Regions from separate parts of the Homo sapiens genome. Here regions 1 and 2 are each linked to region 3. The links come from fine-mapping of genetic effects on gene expression. A gene starts in region 3. Each other region holds a variant in brackets. All regions are shown on one strand. Distances are between the middles of the regions.

Evidence for each region.
Region 1: its variant is fine-mapped to the expression of DGUOK in whole blood (TOPMed, PIP above 0.99). The same link has a PIP of 0.9 or more in fibroblasts.
Region 2: its variant is fine-mapped to the expression of DGUOK in whole blood (INTERVAL, PIP above 0.99).

The regions. Positions count from the first base shown.
Region 1 is chr2:73,954,957-73,962,690 of GRCh38, reverse strand. DGUOK (deoxyguanosine kinase) reads right to left here. Exons shown (of 7, transcript NM_080916.3): 5 at 5,451-5,566; 6 at 4,446-4,545; 7 at 3,745-3,981. The coding sequence ends at 3,955. DGUOK-AS1 (DGUOK antisense RNA 1) reads left to right here. Exons shown (of 2, transcript NR_104030.1): 2 at 4,484-4,724. Among named protein-coding and RNA genes, the nearest start is that of DGUOK-AS1, 23 kb to the left of the region's middle. The variant T/A (reference allele first, on the strand shown) is at 3,942.
Region 2 is chr2:74,192,898-74,200,631 of GRCh38, reverse strand. It overlaps MTHFD2 (methylenetetrahydrofolate dehydrogenase (NADP+ dependent) 2, methenyltetrahydrofolate cyclohydrolase), which reads right to left and starts at 2,017. Exons shown (of 8, transcript NM_006636.4): 1 at 1,890-2,017. The coding sequence starts at 1,990. RefSeq lists silencers at 1,259-1,348, 1,479-1,758, 1,949-2,088 and enhancers at 1,797-2,355, 7,065-7,734. The variant G/C (reference allele first, on the strand shown) is at 4,688.
Region 3 is chr2:73,923,448-73,931,181 of GRCh38, reverse strand. It overlaps DGUOK (deoxyguanosine kinase), which reads right to left and starts at 4,302. Exons shown (of 7, transcript NM_080916.3): 1 at 4,130-4,302. The coding sequence starts at 4,271. RefSeq lists an enhancer at 4,001-4,270.

The DNA.
Region 1 (7,734 bases), 32 kb before region 3:
CCCATGAAGGAGAAAGTGGTTCAGAAAATGTAAACTGCTATTTAAGTGAGGGCTGAAGAAGGTTAAATAGTATTAAAATTTTAAAGTGCATGTTATTTCGTTGCATCACTTCCTCTGTGATTCTGGTATTTGCATATAACAAACAATCTCTTTTACTTGAAATTATCACCTTCTGAGAGTTTGAGAACTTTCACAACCTTGATCCTTGTTATAAACCCATCAAGGTAATATTCAGGTTCCAGAACAGCAGGTTTTACCACATCGTAAGCCAGAAAGAAATGCAGCTATTTCTTATGTGTTAATCCAAATTTTTTGACGCTGGGAGTTGGCCTAAACCAAGAATAACAGCCATCCAGACTGGCCTGAGTGTAGAGTAGGGACCGTTTTAGTGTGACCTCCACTCTCTAGCGTCCACTTTAAAAACCCACGGTGCCCAAGGTTTCAGCCTGCCTTCCTGTGGTCCTAATCTGCACACTTACAGGCTCCACCCAGACCTACTTGTCCCTCCCCCACAATTTAAGATTCAAAATTACTGCTGCTCATTAATATGTTTACTCTCTACAGATGATCTCGGCTACAAATTTGGAAAATGACAAATATCACCTAGGTTACACTGTTGATGGCCCGCACTATCCTAGAGGATATTTACTTTTTTTTTTTTTGAGACAGAATCTCGCTCTGTCACCCAGGCTAGGGGGCAGTGGTGCAATCTCGGCTCACTGCAGCCTCTGCCTCCCAGTTCAAGCAATTCTTCTGCCTCAGCCTCCCGAGTAGCTGGGACTATAGGCCTGCACTACCATGCTCAGCTAATTTCTGATTTTTAGTAGAGATGGGGTTTCACCTTGTTGGCCAGGCTGGTCTCGAACTCCTGACTTCAAGTTATCCGCCCGCCTCGGCCTCCCTAGGTGCTGGGATTACAGGCTTGAGCCACAGTGCCCAGCCAACGTTTACTTTCTAAAAGGCAATATTTACCAATAGAGATGCTGAATTTGTAGACTTTCAGGCTTTAAAACTAGGTGAAGAGTGTAGTGGCTTACATCTGTAATCCTAGCACTTTGGAAGGCTGAGGCAGGAGAATCACTTGACACCAGAAGTTGGAGACCAGCCTGGGCAACATAGTGAGACAGTCTCTACTAAAAATAAAATAATTAGTGGGCGCGGTGGTGTGCACCTATAGTCTCAACTACTCAGGAGGCTGAAGTAGGAGGATGGCTTGAGCCCAGGAGTTCAAGGCCGCAGTGAGCTGTGACTGCACCACTGCACTCCAGCCTGGGCAACACAGTGAGACTGTTGTGGGGGAAGAAAGGAACGAAGTACTGATACATGTTACCACTTGGATGAACTTTGAAAACATTATGCTCAGTTAAAAAAAAAAGTTACAGGAGACAACATAGTATGATTCTATTCATATGAAATTGCAGGAATAGGCAAATCTACAGAGACAAAAGTAGACTGGTTGTTGCCTAGGGCTGGGAGTTGGCAGCAGGGAAACTTGGGGGAGATGGGGTATGGGCTTTCTTTTTGGGGTGATGAAAATGTTCTGGAATTGTGGTATTGGTTATACAGCCCCATGACTACTATACTACAAACTATTGAATTGTATACTTTATTTTTTGTTTTTATTTATTTATTTATTGAGATGGAGTTTTGCTCTTGTTGCCCAGGCTGGAGTGCAGTGGTGCGATCTTGGCTCACTGCAACCTCTGCCTCCTGGGTTCAAGCGATCCTCCTGCTCTGCCTCCTGAGTAGCTAGGATTACAGGCACACACCACCACACCCGGCTAATTTTTTGTATTTTTATTGGAGACGGGGTTTCACCATGTTGGCCAGGCTGGTCTCAAACTCCTGACCTCAGTTGATCCACCTGCCTCAGCCTCCCAAAATGCTGGGATTACAGGCGTGAGCCACCACGCCTGGCCTGTACACTTTATTTTTAAGAGATAGAGTCTCGCTCTGTCACCTACAAGTGCAGTGGCAGGATCATAGCTCACTGCAGCCTCCTGGGTTCAAGCGATCCTCCCACCTCAGCCTCCCAAGTAGCTAGGACTACAGGCTCACTCCACCACACCTGGCTTATTTTTTTAATTTTTACTTTTTTGGAGAGCTGGCCTCTCGTTATGTTACCTAGGCTGGTCTCAAACTCCTGGCCTCAAGCAATTCTCTTACTTTGGCCTCTCAAATCTCTGGGATTACAGGTGTGAGCCACTGTGTGTGGCCTGAATCGTACAGTTTAGATGAGTGAATTGTATAATATGTGAATTATGTATCAATAAAGCTATTAAAATGTTTTAAATAAGTAGGATAAGGAAATTGCCATACTTTTATATTAAAACATTACTTTTTTTTTTTTTTTTTGAGACAGAGTTTCGTTCTTGTCGCCCAGGCTAGAGTGCAGTGGTGTGATCTCAGCTCACTGCAACCTCCGCCTCCTGGGTTCAAGCGATTTTCCTGCCTCAGCCTCTCAAGTAGCTGGGATTACAGGCATACACCACCACGCCCGGATAAATTTTGTATTTTTGGTAGAGATGGGGTTTTGCCATGTTGCCCAGACTGGTCTTGAACTGCTGACCTCAGGTGATCCACCTGCCTTGGTCTCCCAAAGTGCTGGCATTACAGGTGTAAGCCACCTTGCCTGGCCTATGTATTTGTTAGAAACCAATCTCACATTCATTTCCCCAAAGCATAAAGGACAGAAACACAGATTTCTGTCTTCTGGGGCACTCTTACGTCCCCAGATCATTCATCTTCCTGTGTACCTGCAGAACCGTCAAGGGTTCAGTGCAGATCTGCTCCTGTGAATCATGGACCTGCAGGCTTCTGGCAATGGAGCACTTCAATCCTATAGAGCCATGTATTTTTCTTCCCTTAACAATAAATTCTATTTGAAGGGTAAAGAGCACAACAAAAAATTTTTTTTTTTTTTTTCCTGCACAGAGAGATCCACTCCATTAACGTTATCTGGAAGTCATTGGGTAAGGTATTTAGACAAAGATAGAGTGCCGGGCGGGCCAATCTTAAATGTCAGATGCTTAACTTTTGGGTTCTTGCTGTTTTCTACCTTTTTCTTTTGGCCAGGTTCTTTAGCTCTAGGACAAGGGTTTAAGTTCCCCACACCTGTCCCCTATGTCAAGAGTGGCAGATGGGAAGAGATAAAGAAGCTTCCTGGAGTTCATGCTCCATTTCCTGCTCTGGGGGGCTCACATTTAAGATCCCACCCACTCTTGAGCCACTTTATTTCCCTTCTTCATGCATGGCAGGTAGGGCTTGGGTTAGAGTTCTGGGAGCAATTTGAAAATTGCTAGTTGATATGGTTAGGCTTTGTGTCCCCAGCCAAATCTCATCTTGAATTGTAATCCCCAGGTGTCAAGGGAGAGACTTGGTGGGAGGCGACTGTATCACCGGGACAGGTCCCCCATGCTGTTCTCATGGCAGTGAGCTCTCAAAAGATCTAATGGTTTTATAAGGCAGGTTTCCCTGCTCTTTCTTGCACTCGCTCATTCACCTGCCACCATGTGAGATGTGCCTGTTTCCCCTCTGCCATGATTGTAAGTTTCCTGAGGCCTCCCCCACCATGCGAAACTGTGAATCGATTAAACCTCTTTCCTTTAGAAATTACCCAGCCTCAGGTAGTATCTTTATAGCAGTGTGAAAACGGACTAATACACTAGTCTAGAGGTGAATTTAGAGCAAGCACCAAGAGATACATGCTGAAATAAATGAGCAACTGAATTAGAAAAACAAGCATAACTTAAGTAAACTTTATTTTCAAAATGCTTCAGGTACAAAAGAAAACAATGGCAAAGTCTAACAATAATTAACAAACCAGCTCTTGAGCGGCAGAGTGCTCCAGGGATGAGAGGGGCTGGGGATGGAAAGGTGGTTGGGAGACACAACATTTTTCTAGCTTCAGAAAGTCAGGGAGCCCAGATCACAGCCTGAAC[T/A]TCATGGTATTGGTTACAGATTCTTTACAAAGGTGTTTACCTGTGGGAAGGAGAAAATCAGAAGTTTAATTTCACATTTTTAACAGAATTTTCAATGGTCCACCCCCAATGCATATGCAGCCAAGCCCATGAGGTTTTTGTGAGGAAAGGAAAATAATAGGCATGGAGAAGAAATGTGGGCAGCCCAGGGTCATATAGCATCAAGTGGCAGAGCTGGGAATAGAATCCAGTAGTCTCATTTCCCTAGTTTTAGGATGCCTTAGAGAAGAAAGTCAGCTGGCAAGCACATGTTACAAGTCAATTATTTAACAATTATTAGTCCAGCATACTTTAGAGAATAGGGATATTTGTAATCTGCACAAGATTCCATAGGCCTTGGAGTGTGAAATGCAATGTGAGATGCAAAGCACAAGACCCATGATATTGAACTTTGAAGCAAAGGCCAGAAAGATAAAAGTACAACAAAGGAAACCACCAGAAAACAGGAGTTAAAGTCCTTCCCACCTCTCTCATGAGGTCTTCTTGTTTGGTTACTTCCTCAGAAAAATCATCATTGACATCCAACACCAGCACTGGAATGTTCATCAGAGCCTCAAAGTGGAGCCTATAAGAAGCGTGAACGTTTGGGGGACAGAAAAAAAGAAATGTAACTTGAGTCAAGTTTCACATACTCGCCAAGTCTTACTCAGAGAACAGATCTAAATTCAACATGACTTTTCAAAGAAACTGCATGTAAACTGCATTTAAAAAAACAAATTCAATAAAGTTGGCCGGAAACAGAAAGGTTGAGGTTTCTCTTCATTCTTGAGAGTGATACTAACAAACAGTCAGAGCACCAAACATTTTAAGTGGACAACAAACCAAGCCTAAAGGGAGGACAGGCAGAAACCAGGAATGCCAACTTAGTAATACTGACAATTTCTCTAACATTTTCAGCCCTTCATGCTGAGCCAACTATCACCATCAATCACAATGTTCAGTCTAGGGAAATGTTAAGAAACAAAGAAAAAGCTGGAGAAATACAATCTAATAAAAAGGCCCTTGGAATGTAAAGATTATATTCAATATTAAACTTCTTCTGGGCATCTCACTCTGTCGCCCAGGCTGGAGTACAGTGGTGCGATCTCGGCTCACCGCAATCTTTGCCTCCCAGGTTCAAGCGATTCTCCTGCCTCAGCCTCCCGAGTAGCTGGTATTACAGGCGCCTGACACCACACCTGGCTAATTTTTCTATTTTTAGTAGAGACAGGGTTTCACCATGTTGGCCAGGCTGGTCTTGAATCCTGACCTCAGGTGACTGCCTCAGCCTCCCAAAGTGCTGGGATTACAGGCGTGAGCCACGGTGTCCAGCAATATTAAACTTCTGAGTTGGAAAATGCTTGACATTTCCAACCATTTCCAGTATATTCTGAACCTTCCTACAGGGGGCTGCATGCTGAACTTGTTTTTAACAACTGGCTGTTGGGAGCCAGGTCTCTGTCTCTGATACATTCTTTTCTCCCCACTTACTTCGTTGTCTTGTGAATAAGCCAGGCTTCGTGTTGGCCATGCAGCTGCTCTAGATAGGCCAGCTCAATTCCTTTCTCCTCCTCCCTGGCCCTCTGGTACAGTCTCTTCAAACAAACCTAAAAGACAGTCCCCAAGCCCTGATGAGCTCTTTGCTGTTTTGGCTGCTACAATGCAGTCTTCGGGGGCTCTGAGGCCCACCCATAATGTCTATCTTGGGCATTACAAGCCATGCCTTTGCTTCTGCTGTCTTGTTTTCTTATGCAATCAGAGGATCTACACCATTCTTTTCCCATCTCCACCTTAAACCTGCTCTTCCTCTGAAGTATCCTAAGTCGGTTAATGATGAACATCATCCATCCAGTCATCCAAGCCACGGACCTGGAATTTTCCTTGTTTTTCCTTCTCCCTACTATATCTGGGAAGTCACTCAATTCTCTTTCATCTCTCTAGAATGTTCTCTCCTTGCCTCTCCTCTCACCTCTGCCCTGGTCGGGTCCTCTTTACTTCTTACCTGGATTATGGCAAGAGCCTTCTGGTTCTGCCTCCTGGAGGCAGGGAAGCATATGGACAGAGTACAGGCCTTAAGGTCAGAAAGTCCAGGAGTAAATTCCTGCCTTCATAAGGTACTAGCAGTGCAGTCCTTGTGGGCTTCTATTTCCTCATTGTCTACCCATCCACAGGTCACTGAGGTAAGTTGTATTGAGCTCCTGGCAAAAGCTGTTCCCTCCTTCCAGTTTTTCCCCTTCACTCCACCCGTCTGTAGTACGGCAATATAATGACATGACTTTCCTTGCTGAAAATACTTCACAGGCTCTTTACCGCCTACAGCCATAGCCCCAGGGTTCAAAGCAGTATGTATGAATAGCATTGCATTTATAAAATGTTAGGTAATTTGAAATATCTCTTTCATGTCATACCAAACATTCACTCAGGAATAGAATGTAAAATTTGCACAGGTCAAAGATAAAACAAAGAAGTGGAAAAACAAGTGAGGCTTGAGACTAACTCTCCTCCCCCGCTGCTTTGCAGAGTGTACATAATTCTATTCTGCATTCATCTGGTAGTGAAGTTTGATGCACACTGGCTCAGAAAATGACATCTTCTTTACCTGTCACACAAAGCTACCCCTCCTACTTCTCAACTGCCTTAGCTCTTCCCCTGGACTCACTGCTTTAGCCAGATTTGACCTCTTTCCTGGGGAACAGGCCAGGCTCTTTCACACCTCAAAATTTTTGCTCCAAATGTTTGTTTTGACTGAATTATCCTCAGTCCTCTCTCTGCTTGACAAACATTTCATTATTCAATATCATCTGTCCTGGAAGAACAGATGGATTAACCCACTGATTTAGGACTTCACTCTTTTTTTTTGAGACAGAGTCTTGCTCTGTTGCCAGGCTGGAGTGCAGTGGCGCGATCTCAGCTCACTGCAACCTCTGCCTCCCAGGTTCAAGTGATTCTCTTGCCTCAGCCTCTCAAGTAGCTGGGACTACAGGCGGGAGCCACCACGCCCAACTAATTTTTTGTATTTTTAGTAGAGATGGGGTTTCACCATGTCGGCCAGGATGGTCTCGATCTCTTGGCATCGTGATCTGCCCGCTTCGGCTTCTCAAAATGCTGGGATTACAGGCGTGAGCCACCGTGCCCGGCCAGGACTTCCCTCTTTCAATAACTTACTTAAGAAATGAAAACTTAATTTCCAAATGTAGTACACAATAATCCCAAAGACTTGGGAGTCTTTGCTGTTTCCCTCTTATCTTACCTTTTCTCTAAGGAAATGAAATTATAGAAACAAATTTTATTAATGATCAAAAGGTATATGCACTTGCAATTATATACTGCCAGACTGCCTCCTTAGAGGTTAACCAATTTATATTCCCACCAGAAAGGTAGCTTTAGGATTTCTAAGCATAGCAAAGCTATCATCTCATTTTCCTTTCTGAGAAAAAAAATGTTGTCTGTTTCGTGAAAATAAATTTTTTTAAAATGTGACTTTATGTTTCCAAGTACACACACAAAGGCAGAACAATTCTTTTTAGGAAAGCTATTTATAATTATTCATTCACTGCTTGCAGACAAACCTTGACACTAACATTGATCTATTAAAATAAGCTAACATATTTCTATTTACTATTAATTTCCTTAACAGAGCAAATGGATTTCCCTGAGAAGTCTAAGTCTTAACTGGTGGCAGTATTGAGTGGGGAAAAAAAAAGAGGTCGAAGTAAACTCCTACTATGAGCATTTGGCATAACTCTTGCTTTACTGATATCGCTATAACAAATTC
Region 2 (7,734 bases), 270 kb before region 3:
CCACTGTCTCCTAGGCTACTATTTCTCCAACCATAGGTTTATGTTCCTGAAACTCTCATACCATCCAACAAAGAAAAAAAAAAAAAGAATGCAGACTCATATTTTTAAAAGGATACAACTTTTTAAAAATAAGCAGTATTTAAAAATAAACAGTATTTTAAAAAATAAGCAGCAGTAAGAAAGCAATATGTGGGAATTGTAAATAGCAAATGTGCAGTACAGATAATATGGATTGCTTTCAGAGATGTGGATGAAGCTTACTTGTTCTTTCAGAAAGGTAGTGAAAAGAGCATTTGTTATTGGAGAGTGTAGACAAACTGGCCCAGTTCTTTAGGTAATGAATGAGAGCATCTTTATAAATCTCTTTTGGACCATGGAAGCCTAGGAAAGGTCTGGTCCACAGTCACATGAGGCCAGCACTCAGGAAGAGGGAGAAGGGGAGAAAACACACAGTAACGAAACATGGGGGAGGTCAAGAGTCAGACCAGGGAAAACCCTGAAAGTCCCCTCCCACGTTTTCCTTCAAGAACTCATTGCTCCAACAAGCAGCGCCTTTGAAATATTTCTAACAGCATTTCCGCACTGACTGGAAATTACACGCGTGTTCTGCCCCTTGTCAGGAACATGAGCTCCATTAAGAACAGTTTTTCTCATCTTTGAATTCGCACAGCTTGGCATAGTGTCTGGTACACAGTGAACGTTAGATGAAAAAAAGAAGGGGCTGATGTTGTAAGGTGCAGGGCTCTAACAATGCCAACAATGCCAGCGCTCTAATGACCGACCAAATCACCTTCCCAAGGAAACCCAAAAATGCAAACAGAGCTTTTCCTTTCCTCCTCCCCTGTATATTTTTCCCAATTTTGTTATTGTGGTAAAATTCACATAACATAAACCTTATCAACTTTTTTTTTTTTTTTTTTTTTTGAGACAGGGTCTCGCTCTGTCGCCCAGACTGGAGGGCAGTGGTGCAATCACGGCTCACTGCAGCCTCGAACTCCTGGGCTCAAGCGATTCTCGTGCCTCAGCCTCGGCGCGTGTCACCACGCCCGGCCCATCTTAACCATTTTTAAGTGCAGTTCAGTGGTATTAAATACGTTCATATGTTGTGCAACCATCACCACCATCCATCTTCAGAACTCTTCATCTTGTAAAACTGAAATTCTGCAAGTACCGCTGAAATATGGGTACTTGTCACTCTCCATTCCCCCTTTCCCTAAGGCCCTGGGAGCCTCCCGGATGTTTGCCACCTCTATGTACGCAGCCCGGCACTGACAGGCTCTGGTGGGCTGCAGCCAAAGCTAGGGTGCCCAGAGTCCGTTCATGTTCCTGGCAGAGCGGAGGCAGCGCGGGCCACTCCCACCGGCGGAGGGAGGAGGGCGGCGCGGGGACCCCGAGCAAGTCGGCTCCGCGATTTCATCAGCTGCAGCAGCGCCCTCCGCCGCTAGGGTCCCCGCAAGGACAACTCGCCGAGGGCTGCTCTTTTGGAACCCTCGCCTGTTCTCCCCCAGACGACTCTCAGCATCCCAGCCAGAGGCGGCCGGCGCTGTCGGAAGGCTCCGCGTAAACTGATGCCTTCGCGTTCCGCACGCCACCCCCGTCCCGCCCGCCGACTGGCCACGGGCCCCGGCGACGCCCCGAGTCGCAGGAGAGCGGCTCCCTCCGAAAGGCGGGCTTCGGGTACCAGCCCTCCGCGCCGAGGAAGCGCCCCAGTCGAGAGCTGCGGCGGCGCTCGGTGCCACGTCGCCCCGCCACACCCCTCAGCGGCCACCACCGCCGGGGCGGAGATGTTCGGGAAGGACTTCCCTCGGTGTCCCTCGGGGGCCCGGCGTGCCCCTCGCCCTCCGTTCCCCTCAGCTTTCCGCGCTGACCGAGCTCTGTGACCCTCTTACCGAACTGCCGCGAGGTGGAAAGGGCGAAGGCGAAGGGAGCAGCTGTGCGCGGGCTGCAGCAGCCGGGCAGCCAAAGCAGACATTAGAGAAGTCGCAGCCATAGACCGCGCCGGTGACTGCGCCGGGAGGGAAGCGCGCGCGCGGGCCACGCGGTTATACTGCGGCCTCGTGGCAGGCCCCGCCTCCCTCCGCCACCCATTGGTCCCTGCCGCATGCCACTGGCTGTCTGTTGAGCCAGGTGGAGCCGAAGGGGCCAACCGGTTTTCTTTATTAAACGTAAGCGAAGTCCGAAAGAGCCCTGCTTTTGATTGGAGCCAGAAGAGCCTGGAGCGAGGTCCTGTAAGGCGCTGAAGCCTCGGCAACGTGCCATGATAGGCTGAGGAAGTCAAACTCCTGCCTGACGCCGCTAGTGTCACCGAAGGCCGGACAACACAAGAGAAAAGTTCATTCATTCATTCGTTGAACAATTATATGAGCGCCTACTGTGTGCCAAGCACTGTAAAGGGTGGATGAAAAGACAAGCTGATAGAATGCCAACGAACAGAAGTAAAAGGAATGATGGAGTTAGAAAATCACCATTTTCCAAAATCAGTACATGGTGGCGCGTGACTACAGTACCAGCTACTGGGGAGGCTGAGGTGGAAGGATCACCTGAGTTCAGGAGGTTGAGGCTGCAGTGAGCTGAAGGCGCGCCACTGCACTCCAGCCTGGGCGACGAGAGTGAGACCATATCTCAAAACAACAACAAAAAAAGTAAAATCATAAAAGATATTCAGAGACAGACGTCAGGGTTGCATGTGCAACCCTGATTCAGAAGCAGCAATAGATGTCAAAACAACTGGGTGAAAGTTGGATGAGGAGCAAGATATTTACATATAGGGTTGCCAGATCTAGCAAATAAAAACACAAGATGCCCAATCAAATCAGAATTTTAGATAAACACTTTGGGAGGTCATATTTATACTTTATTTATGGCTTATCTGGAATTCAGATTCAACTGGGCTTCCTGTATTTTTTCCCGCAAACTTTTTGCATAGTCTCAAAGTATCTCTCCCGCAAGGAAACTTAAGGAGGGCAGGGCGCGGTGGCTCACTTCTGTAATCCCCAGCTCTTTGGGAGGCCAAGGCGGACGGATCACCTGAGGCCAGGAGTTCGAGACCAGCCTGGCCAATGTGTTGAAACCCCCGTCTCTACTAAAAACACAAAAAATTATCTGAGCATCGTGGCGGACGCTGTAATCCCAGCTACTGGGGAGACTGAGGCATGAGAATCGCTTGAATCTGGGAGGCAGAGGTTGCAGGGAGCCGAGACTGTGCCACTGCACTTCAGCCTGGGCAACAAAAAGACTCTGTCTCAAAAAACAAAACAAACAAACAAAGAACAGGGGAAACCAATCCTGTCAACACCTTGACCTTTACTTCTAGCCTCCAGGAAGGAAAGGAAAATGGTAAATTTACAGTGAAGAAACATGACAGTTACTGCTTCAACCACGTGATCAAAGTTAGCACCACCCAGTAAGGGAACACACATATATGCCTTCTGATAGGATCCATTGAGGAGACACATCACTTCGTAGCTCTTAACAAGTCTGTAAATTTAATAAGGTGATTTTCCTAAACCAATGAGTCTCCTAAAAACGGTTACAGATTCCTCATTTCACATTGAGAAGAAAGATCACAGACCTAGAATGTTAAAACTGTCCAGGAAAAAAAACAGTTGTAAAGCTTTGGAACACACTAGTAGATCTTAATCTATTCACAAGGAAATATCAGACAAGCCCAAAGTGAGAGATATTCTACAAGATAAATTGCTTGTACTCTTGACAGCTCCAAGGCCATGAAAGACAAAGAATGAGAAACTGTTCTCCATTAAAGGAGCCTAGGCATGACAGCTAAATGCTGTTTGATTCTGGATTGGATTCTGGACCCAAAACTTTTTGTCTTTCTTTTTTTCTCTTTCTTGCTTCTTTTTTTCTCTCTTTTGCTATAGATGACATTATAGGACAATTGGCAAAATATGAATAAAGTCTGCAACTAGCTAATAGCATTTTATCAGTGTTAGCTAATCGCATGCAGTAATGTAAGAGAATATATTGCACTTGCTTCTAGTACTAAAGGACCATGTCTGTAACTTACTTTTGAATAGTTCAGAAAAAAATAATGCTTTGTATGTATAAGTTGGCTAGGGCTGCCATAACAAAATAACACAGACTGAGTCATTTAAACAACAGAAATGGGCTGAGTGCAGTGGCTCACGCCTGTAATCCCAGCACTTTGGGAGGCTGAGGCAGGCGGATCACCTCAGATCAGGATTTTGAGACCACCCTGGCCAACATGGTGAAACCCTGTCTCTACTAAAAATATAAAAATTAGCCAGGCATGGTTTCACATGCCTGTAATCCCAGCTACTTGAGAGACTGAGGCAGGAGAATTGCTAGAATCCAGGAGGCCGACGTTGCAGTGAGCCGAGATCGCACCACTGCACTTTAGCCTGGGCAACAGTGAGACTCGATCTAAAAAAAAAAAAAAAAGAAAGAAATGTATTTTCTAACAGTTCTGGGGGCTAGAAGCGAAGGTCAAGGTGTTGGCAGGATTGGTTTCTCCTGAGGCTTGCAGTCCTTGGCTTACAGAGGGCTGCATGCCTGCTGTGTTATGGCCTTTTCTGTGTGTGCACATGCAACCCTGACGTCTCTCTCTGAATATCTTTTATTATTTTACTTTTTTTGTTGTTGTTTTGAGACATGGTCTCACTCTCGTCGCCCAGGCTGGAGTGCAATGGTGCGCCTTCAGCTCACTACA[G/C]CCTCAACCTCCTGGATTCAGGTGATCCTTCCACCTCAGCCTCCCCAGCAGCTGGTACTGTAGTCATGCGCCACCACATCAGCCTAATTTTTTGTATTTTTAGTACAGACCGGGCTTCGCCATGTTGCCCAAGTAAGCCTTGAACTCTTGGGCTCAAGGAATTCACCTGTCTTGGCCTCCCAAAGTGCTGGGATTATAAGCATGAGCCACCATGCCCGGCCTCTCCGAATGTCTTAATCTCCTCTTATAAAGAAACCAATCAGATTAATTTAGAGCCTACCCTAACAGCCCCATTTTAACCATTTTAATCATTGTTTTAAAGGCCTTATTTCCAAATAGAGTCACATTCCAAGGTCAGAGTGTCAACACTGAATTTTGGAGAGGATACAATTCAGTCCATAACAATGTATATACATAAAAAAAAAACCCATAAAACAAGTGGCAAATGTAAAATATTAACAAGTGGGGAAGAGTATACAAGTATTCTTTGAACTTTTCCTGTAACCTTTCTGTATGTCTGAAATAATGTCAAAAATTTTTTAAAAGACCAGTAATTTTTTTTTCTCTTCTTTTCTTTTTCTTTTTTTTTTTTTTTTTGAGATAGAGTCTCACTGTGTCACCCAGGCTGGAATGCAATGGCATGATCTTGGCTCACTGCAACCTCCGCATCCTGGGTTCAAGTGATTCTCGTGCCTCAGCCTACCAAGTAGCTGGGATTACAGGCATGTGCCACTATGCCTGGCTAATTTTTGTATTTTTAGTAAAGATGGGGTTTCCCCATGTTGGCCAGGCTAAAAAGATCAGTAATATTTATGCCCTTATGGGGCATGGAGTGAGGCAGGCATACAATGAATAAGAGACTAAGAAAAAGAATGTGATGCTGAGAGCCCACAAAACAATGGATATGGAAGGTTTAGAGGTCAGAGAATGGCCTACAGGTTATATAACTGGTGATAAGACTGGGTGTGATAATTTGCAGATCCTGTCCCCAGTACGCTGTGGGGAGGAGGCACCTTAGAGTTACTTGAACCTAGCAACAGTGATTGAAGAGGGAAAGGAAATACACATTTCCCATCTTTTAAGGAAACTAACCCTCCATCCCTCTGCAAAATTTGGGAAATTTTCTTTTCCCAAAATGTGAACTTTCAGGAATGAATTGAAACCGCCTTTGCAAACATTGTTAACAGCGATCTAACATTTAGTTAGACCACTTTCATTAATGATCTGATCTAACCAACTTCATCTTGCCTTTAACTTCCAAACTTCCCTTGGTCATTCCTGGGCATGGACAAAACTATCCTTGAAACACCCAAACTTTCTGGGAGGCTGATTTGAGTAATAATAAAACTCTGGCCTGGCGCGGTGGCTCATGCCTGTAATCCCAGCACTTTGGGAGGCCGAGGTGGGTGGATCACAAGGTCAGGAGTTTGATACCAGCCCGGCCAACATGGTGAAACCCCGTCTCTACTAAAAATACAAAAAAAAAAAAAAAAAAAAAAAAATTAGCCAGGCATGGTGGCATGCACCTGTAATCCCAACTACTCAGGAGGCTGAGACAGGAGAATTGCTTGAACCCGGGAGGCGGGAGGTCACAGTGAGCCACTGCGCTTCAGCCTGGGTGACAGAGCAAGACTCTGTCTCAAAAAAAAAAAAAAAAATTCCAGTCTTCGGTTTAGCCAGCTCTCTGTGTATTAAACGCTCTCTGTATTATAATTCCTGTGTCTTGATAAATGGGCTGTATCTAGGCAGCAGGCAAGATGAGCCCACTGGGGAGTTACGAAACCCATGTGTGAACATTATTATATATTTTTAATATGCTTCACAAAAGGACCTGCTTCTACGCTCCCACTCTCTTAAAATATCATTTATTTAGACTAGGCTAAATAGTCTAACAGGCTAAATAGTCTAACAGGGTGGCTCATGCCTGTAATCCCAGTGCTTTGAGAGGCTGAGGTGGGAGAATTGCTTGAGCCCAGGAGTTCAAGACCAGCCTGGGCAACATCGTGAGACCCCATCTCTACAAAAAAATAAAAAACTTAGCCAGGCGTTGTGGTGCACACCTGTGGTCCCAGCTATTCGGGAGGCTGAGATGGAAGGATCACTTGACCCCGGAGGTTGAGGCAGCAGTGAGCTATGATTGGATTACTGCACTCCAGTGTGGGTGACAGAGATTCTGTCTCGGCCGGGCACAGGGGCTCACGCCTGTAATCCCAGCACTTTAGGAGGCAGAGGCGGGCGGATCATGAGGTCAAGAGATCGAGACAATCCTGGCCAACATGGTGAAACCCTATGTCTACTAAAAATACAAAAATTATCTGGGCATGGTGGCACATGCCTGTAGTCCCAGCTACTCAGGAGGCTGAGGCAGAAGAATCGCTTAAACCCAGGAGGCAGAGGCTGTAGTGAGCCGAGATCATGCCACTGCACTCCAGTCTGACAACAGAACGAGATTCTGTCCCAAAAATAAAAATAAATAAAATAATAATAATAATAATAATAATAATAATAATGAAATGGGCTGGGCATGGTGGCTCACACCTGTAATCCCAGCACTTCGGGAGGCCAAGGTGGGAGGATCACTTCAGCCCAGGAGTTTGAGACCAGCCTGGGCAACATAGTGACACCCTGTGAAAGGAAAATTAATTTCAGACTCTAAAATCACTAAACTGAGGGGAAAGTCAAGCTGGGAACTATGTCAGGCAAACCTGCCTTCCAATTTATTCCCCAATAAGATAGCTACAAAGATTAAAAAAAAAAAAAAAAAAGAAAGCTGCATATCTTCCTCACAATTTGCCCACAAGGAAATTCCTTGTGGGTCTCAAGATCTTTACCTGAAAACAGTTCTGTTGAATTTCATCCTGGCAATGTAAATTGATAGATGATCTTCACAGATGCAGGACAGAAAGTCATCCCTCTGCTTACCTGAGACAAATGCATATCTGATTGCTTCCTCTGCCCTATTGTTTTGTTTTGTTTTGTTTGTTTTTGTTTTTTTTTGAGAGAGAGTTTCGCTCTTGTTGCCCAGACTGGAGTGCAATGGCGTGATC
Region 3 (7,734 bases):
CCTCTTGGGAATTCCTACCCCAGAGATTCTGGCTTTCCATGCCCAATCACAAATCTCACCACACAGTATGAAAATTATGTCGAGTCGGCCAGGCACGGTGGCTAACGCCTATAATCCCAGCACTTTGGGAGGCCGAAGCTGGCGGATCACGAGGTCAGGAGATTGAGACCATCCTGGCTAACATGGTGAAACCCCGTCTCTACTAAAAAATACAAGAAATTAGCTGGGCATGGTGGCGGGCGCCTGTAGTCCCAGCTACTTGGGAGCCTGAGGCAGGAGAATGGCGTGAACCTGGGAGGCGGAGGCTGCAGTGAGCCAAGATCACACCACTGCACTGCAGCCTGGGTGCCAGAGCAAGACTCTGTCTCAAAAAAAAAAAAAAAAAAAGAAAAAAAAAAAGAAAATTATGTCGAATCTGTTTTCTCCTACTTAGTTGTGAGTTGTGAGCTCCTTGAAGGACAGGAGCTGTATCCCATTCACTGCTGTGCTCAGCATGAGAGTGGACTCTTAGTCCTCACTCAGTAAGCCTCTGTTGCACAAGAAAGCAAGGAAGAAGCAGAGAAATTTGACAAGGTTAAGAAGCAAAAGTCAGGAAAATAGAGGGAGTTCAAACCTTATCTGATGACCTGTCCTAAGTACTTACTTTGTGACATACCCTGTTCTCTCTCTGGGATTTGAGGACAGAGCTTCCTTTAGGGGTGTGTTTCTCAAAGTACAGTACAAAACATCATATTTAAATAATAACATCATCAGGCAAATAGCAGGACTCTCCCTTCCCATTCCTTTCAATGTTTCGGATTTGGCTGGAGAAAAACACACAGCCATGGTGACTGGTCTCACTTTAAATTCATGACCACTAACTCCAAGTGGGTCCTAAATGGTACCCAGTAATTCAACATTTCTCTTGCTTATTCACTAGAGTATTTCATGTCTTCTGTCTCTACATTCACTCTTAGCTGATGACCTTTCTTCCTACTTCACTCTGAAAACAGACACAACCAAAAGACCTTCCCAAGTTCCCACCACACCCTCTGAAGTTGGTGCTCATATATTTTGCCATCACGCCTGTTACTAGGGATGAATTGTGCTCCTAGCTAAGACTAAATTATTTCCCACTGGGCAATAGATTCCATTCTTTCTTGCTTAAAAATCACTCCAGCAATTCTATCCTCTGTCCCGATTTACCAATTTTCCTCCTTTCCACTAGACCACTTCTGTCAACTTAAAAACATGCTCTAATTCTTTTCACAAAAAGAAAATTAAAAATGTTAAACACTCACACCCTCTTCTAATTTCAGCTACCACCCCATGACTTCCCTTTCTAAAAACTTCCAGTTATCTTAACCCACTCTCCTCACCTCCCATTCTCCTTGAACCTATACCAATTAGGCTTTCACTCCTAACACTCCTAAAACTGTTCTTTTCAAGTTCACCAAAGACCTTCATTTACTTAAACAGTATAACACAGCTGATCATTCCCTCCCACTGAATACCTTCTTCACTTGGCTTCCAGGATATCATTCTCTTTTGTTTTTTTCTCCTACCTCAGTAGGCATTCCTTCTCAGTCTCTGCTTATTCCTTCCCATCTCCCCAGTTTCATAATATTTGCATGCTCAGGGCTCAGTCCTTTCCATCAACACATAGTCTCTGGCATTAAATACCACCTACATTTACAGCTCCAGTCCGGGGAGACCCTAATTCTGAACTTACATATCCAATTACCTATTCAACACCTCTACTTGGATATTAATAGGCATGTAAAAACCTAACATGCTTAAAACCAAGGCTCACTTCTGTAATCCCAGCACTTTGGGAAGCCAAGGCAGGAGGATCAATTGAGCCCAGGAGATCAAGACCAGCCTGGAAAATATAGTGAGACCCTGTCTCTACAAAAAATATACAAAATTAGCCACGCATAGTGGCAAACACCTGTGGATCCAGCTACTCAAGAGGCTAAGGTGGGAGGATGGCTTGAGCCTGGGAGGCAGGCTGCAGTGAGATGCAATTGCATCACTGTATTCTAGCCTGGCAACAGGGCAAGACCACACCAAAGGAGGGGAAGCGAGGGGAGGGGAGGAAGAAGGAGAGGAGGAAATAAAAGAAAATCAGGAGTCTATCTTTCAAGTACTCAAGTCAAAATAATTGGAGTCATCATTGGCCCCTCTCTTTACCTTACACTCTGCATTCAACCTGTCACCAAATCCAATTGGCCCTATCTTAAAATATAACTAGAACCCAATCATTTCTCACCACTTCCACTGTTAAATTTTACTTAAAATGTAACTCAATTTTTGTTAACGTATAACTAGAATCCAATCACGTCTCACCACTTTCACTTTTCACAATACTATAATTATTGCAATACCACTTAACACTCTTCACTTTCAATGTTATCAGCCACAGTGATCTTTTTATAATCTAAGTAAAACTGTCACTTGACTCCTCAAACCTTCCAATGGCTACCCATCTCGGTAAGATTAAAAACCCATGATAAGGCCTATAAAATCTGGCCACCCCTTGGGCTTTTGCCCTAATTTCCCTCCCATCCTTGCTCACTCGACTTCAGTCACAACGATTTCCCTCCTATTCCCCGAACACACTTTCCACCTCAGGGCCTTTCCAATTGCTCTTCACTCTGCCTAGAAGATTCTTCTCCCAGGTATCCACGTGATTTGCTCCCTCATCTTCAGTTTTTTGCTCAGATGTCACCTTCTCAGTGAGGCCTTGCTTATTTTATTTAAAATGACAACTTCGGCCAGGTGCAGTGGCTAACGCCTATAATCCCAGCACTTTGGGAGGCCGAGGCAGGCGGATCACCTGAGGTTAGGAGTTTGAGACCAGCCTGGCCAACATGGTGAAACCCTGTCTCTACTAACAAAACAAAAATTAACTGGGTGTGGTGGCGGGTGCCCCTAATCCCAGCTATTCGGGAGGCTGAGGCAGGAGAATCGCTTGAACCAGGGAGGCAGAGGTTGCAGTGAGTCGAGATCGTGTCATTGCACTCCAGCCTGGGTAACAAGAGCAAAACTCCATCTCAAATAAAATAAAATAAAAACTTCCCTCAATTCTTCATCCCTAATTTTTCTCCATCATACTTATTACTCTCTAACATATTGTTCACCTTGCTTAATTTATGTTGTTTATTGTCCATCTCTCCCTACTTGAGTTCCATGAGAGCAGAGATTTTTATTTGTTCTATTCACAGCTGTATTCTCCAGGCCAAGAACAGTGCTGGCATATGGAAGTGGCTCAAAAGGTGATTTGTTGAATGAATAAAAAAAGAAATTCTCAGTTTGCTGCTACGTCTTCAGTACTCAACACTTGCTAAGCCCCTTTTAGGGGCTCAGTGACTTGGTAGATAAAAGTATCAAGTCAGAATTTATTAATATTAAATCGAAATGCTTTGCCTTCATTTTGCTTTCTGACTACTTTTTATTCAAGATACTGGATCTCACTCTTTTAACAAAATAATTTTTAATTTAATACATGTTTTTAAGTTTAAAAAGTGAGGTTCTTCTAAGAAAAGCCTTAAGAAATTATTATGCAACTAGCACAGGCACAGGGCAAAAATTGTGAATGTGGTATTTGAACGACTGAAATTTAGGAACTCTCTTCGAATAGGGTTGCCAGATAAAATACAGGACACAGTTAAATTTGAACTTTCAATGAGTGATTTCGTTGTTGTTTTGCTGTAAGGATGTCCCAAATATTGCATTGGACACACACTAAAAATTATTCGTTATCTTAAATTCTATTTTAACTGGATATTATTTTTAATTTCTGCTAAATATGGCAACCCTATCTAGGAGAACAAATAAACTGCACCCGCTTGTCGCTTCAATTTCGATCTATTACAAACAGCTAATACAATTCTTGTCCTATCCACTAACTGCGTGGCTTTTATGCCCCAACAAATATGTTCCTGTGGGCGGGTACTGAGGCCCGATATCCTAAAAACAAGGAGGCAAAGATACACAGTGCACTTTGCGAGGGGAAAGGCTCTCCTCGCAGCCCAGAAAAAGAGGCCGGCCGCATCAGACGCAGGCCATTCCGGGCCCAGCTCCTTTCCCAGCCTCTGTCGCCTGCGTGGCGGAGGCCAAGGCTTGGCAGCCGCTTTCCGGCCCTTACCAATGTTGCCTTCGATGGAGAGCCTTCGGGGCCCGCGCCCCGCGTGCAGGCCTCTGGAGGAGGAAACGCCCTCGAGTGGGCTCTTGGCCATGGAACTGAAGGGTGCTCGAAGCCGACTTAGAAAGAGGCGGCCCGCGGCCATCCCACCCACGATTCACACAGCGATCACTTCCGCCGAGAGCACTTCCGCCCTAGGTATCGCTGCTCACTCGCTCCAGCGCACCGTTGACGTAAGGAGATCGTCAGACAGGAAGTGGGTGGGGTTGAACATGCGGCGGGGTGCGCCCAAGAGACCGCTCCGCTATCGCGATGTTTGTAAAGAAGCGTTGAGTGAAGGAAGTTTTGCAACGGTGCAGAATTTGATAGTAAAAGGAGTTGCGGTGCGAGTGGTTTTTGTTCATTGGACAAATAACATTTTAAAAGACGTAATTCCACAATCCAACCACTTCATTTTTGTATAACTTTAAAATAAATTTTATAACTGAAGACAAAATTAAAAATAGAAATTGTAATTTTAAGAGGGGATTTCCCCCCCCCCAGGTGCTTGTTGTCTGGTTTTTATTTTAATATCGGAAGAAAATGGAAGTTTTAAAGTAGGAAAATGACTCAATCTGATGATTTACACAAATTTAACTTTTTCCTATTCCCTGTAATTCCCCTGCACAATGCTGGCATATTATTGACTAAATTAACAAATTAGATAATCAGTTACACCCCATCTCTTAGTTTGTGTCTTGAATAAGTAAATAAATGTTCGGTCAATCGATTTGCATTATACCCAAAAATCCCTTCAGGATAAGGTGGTGGTGGCTCAGGTATGTGACTGGAAATTGTTTAAACCTGGTAGGCTGGGTTCTTGGACGTAAGCAATGGCGAGTAGAGACTTGTATAAAACCTGAGTCCTGCTGTCGGTGAAGTGTGCTCTGCAGGAGGGCAGGGACCTAAGCTGCTGCCACAGGTGAAGCCGGACTGCCACACCCCGTCGTCATAACAACCTCAGAAGTAATGATTTACAAAATGTTGTCAAATGGTGCTTCCAGTTCCAATCGCTTAAATCACCAACAGTCAAAACCAGGAGTCAACAGGCCAAACCGGCCTTCAGGCAGCGCTCTTAGGTGTGGCAGGTTTTAGAAGACAAGGATCTGATTGCAAGGGGGCTGGGGAGGGGCCGGGGGCTGGGATACCTGTCTTGAAGCTGTTCCCATAAAAAGCACGGGACCTTTTTCTTATGTTGATGTATATATAGGATGGCTGAGGTCATGTTTATATATTAAGAACTTTTTTTTTAATCGAATTTTTTAAGGATAACCAGGGTGGGGCGTTAATGGCTACTGGAGCGGCTAAAGTCCTACCCATTCCCATCTCCACTCCAGCAGCCACTTCTGTTAAAACAAAACAAAACAAAACAAAACAAAACAAAAAACAAAAAAAAAACTGCTTACATTTCTTTACCTATGTAAACTCAGACTTGGAAAATATTCATCCAAAAAAGCTTGAGAGGCTCTCTGCCTCGCCAGGATCTTGCTGCCTCAGGGGTGTTGTGAAAGTTAAATGAGGAAGTTGTCTGCAGGCAGGCATTAATCTCCTAAAAGCTACGAGGCAGGAAAATAGGGTCTGGAGACAGGGAACCTAAGGCCGATTTAGGCTGACTTCCTAGAACTAAATCAAAAGGAAAACCCCAACTTTCTAGCCCAAGTAACAAAAGGACCAGAAGCTAATCCCTCTTCTGGGTGGCAGATAAAAAATTGAAAGTACCTCTGACTGGTCCCCGCGGGCAATCAGTCAGGCTGGTGGCAGGCCAAGTCTTTAGTTGCATGGGGTATAACTTCATAACTTTACTTCAGCCTCTGATTGGTCCCCTCCTGCAACCAATCAGACTGATCGCTGGCCACTACTTCATTTACATAGGGTGTACACCAGGTAACCAATGGGAAACCTCTAGAAGGTATTTAAACCCCAGAAAATTCTGTAATTGCTGCTTGCTTGGGCCCTTCCTACCGCAAGGAGTGTTCTTTGATGTACAATAAATCTGTGCTTTTGTTGCTTCATTGTTTCCTTGCTTTGTACGTTTTGTCCAATTCTTTGTTCAAAATGTCAAGAACCTGGGCACCCTCCACCAGTAACAGAGCTCCTAAAAATTATTTTTAAAAATTTTATGGTGAAGTGGCCTGGCGCGGTGGCTCACGCCTGTAATCCCAGCACTTTGGGAGGCTGACGAGGGCGGATCACGAGGTCAGGAGATCAAGACCATCCTGGCTAACATGGTGAAACCCTGTCTCTACTAAAGAGAGAGAAAAAAAAAAAAGCGGAGTGTGGTGGTGGGCTCCTGTAGTCCCAGCTACTCAGGAGGCTGAGGCAGGAGAATGGCCTGAACCGGGGAGGCGGAGCTTGCAGTGAGCCGAGATCGCGCCACTGTGCTCCAGCCTGGGCGACAGAGCGAGACTCCGTCTCAAAAAAAAAAAAAAAAAAAAATTATGGTAAAGCATAGTATGTAGTGAGGAAAAGAGGATGTGTTGTGCAGTGAGGAAAAGAGGATGTGTTGTAAGTGTACAGTTCAATGAAGTTTTCACAAATGGAATGACTGTTACCTGGATTCAGATCAAGAAACAGCATTATCCGCATCTCCAGAATCCCCCATATTCGTTGCCAGTTACTATCCCTCAAAGATAACCATTAGCCTGACTTCAACAGTAGAGATTAGTTTTGCGTTTTCTTTATATAAATGGAATTATATAGTAAATACTTCTTTTATTTAACATATCTGTGAGATTCATCCAGGTTGAATGTATTAGTTGTAGTTCACTCATTCTCATTGCTGTATAGTATTCCACAATGTCACTATACCACAATGTACTCGGAAGTTTCTAGATTTGAGCCATAATGAATAGTGTTGCGGTAAATATTCTTGTACATGTCTTTTGGTAAAAAGAAGTATGCATTTCTCTTGGGTGTATAAGTAAGACTGGAACTGCTGTGTAATAAGTTACATATATATGCTCAGCTTTGATAGATATTCCCAAATAGTAGATAGTTCCACAGTGTTTGTTCTAGTTGACATTGCCATCATCAGTGAGAGAGAGTTCTGGTTTTCCCACATTCTTACCAACAGTTGATATTGTCAGCTTTTTAAATTTTATCCATTTTGCTGTGTGTAATTATAACTTATTGTGGTTTTAATTTGCATTTTCCTGCTGATTAATGAAGTCAAACATCTTTTTGTATGTTTATTGGTCATTTCAGTATCCTCTGTTGAAGTCTTATGTCCATTTTTCTATTGGTTGTCTTTTGCTTGTCTTATTCTTCAAATATTCTGGATGAGTCCTTTGTGAATATTTTATCTCTGTGGTTTGCTTCTTTTCTTTTCTTTTCTTTTCTTTTCTTTTCTTTTCTTTTCTTTTCTTTTCTTTTCTTGTGTTGAGACAGAGTCTCTTGCCCAGGCTGGAGTGCAGTGGGGCAATCTTGGCTCACTGCAACCTCCATCTCCTAGATTCAAGCGATTCTCATGCTTCAGCCTCCCAAGTAGCTGGGATTACAGGCATGTGCCATGCCCGACTAATTTTTTGTATTTTTAGTAGAGACGGGGTTTTGCTATGTTGGCCTGGCTG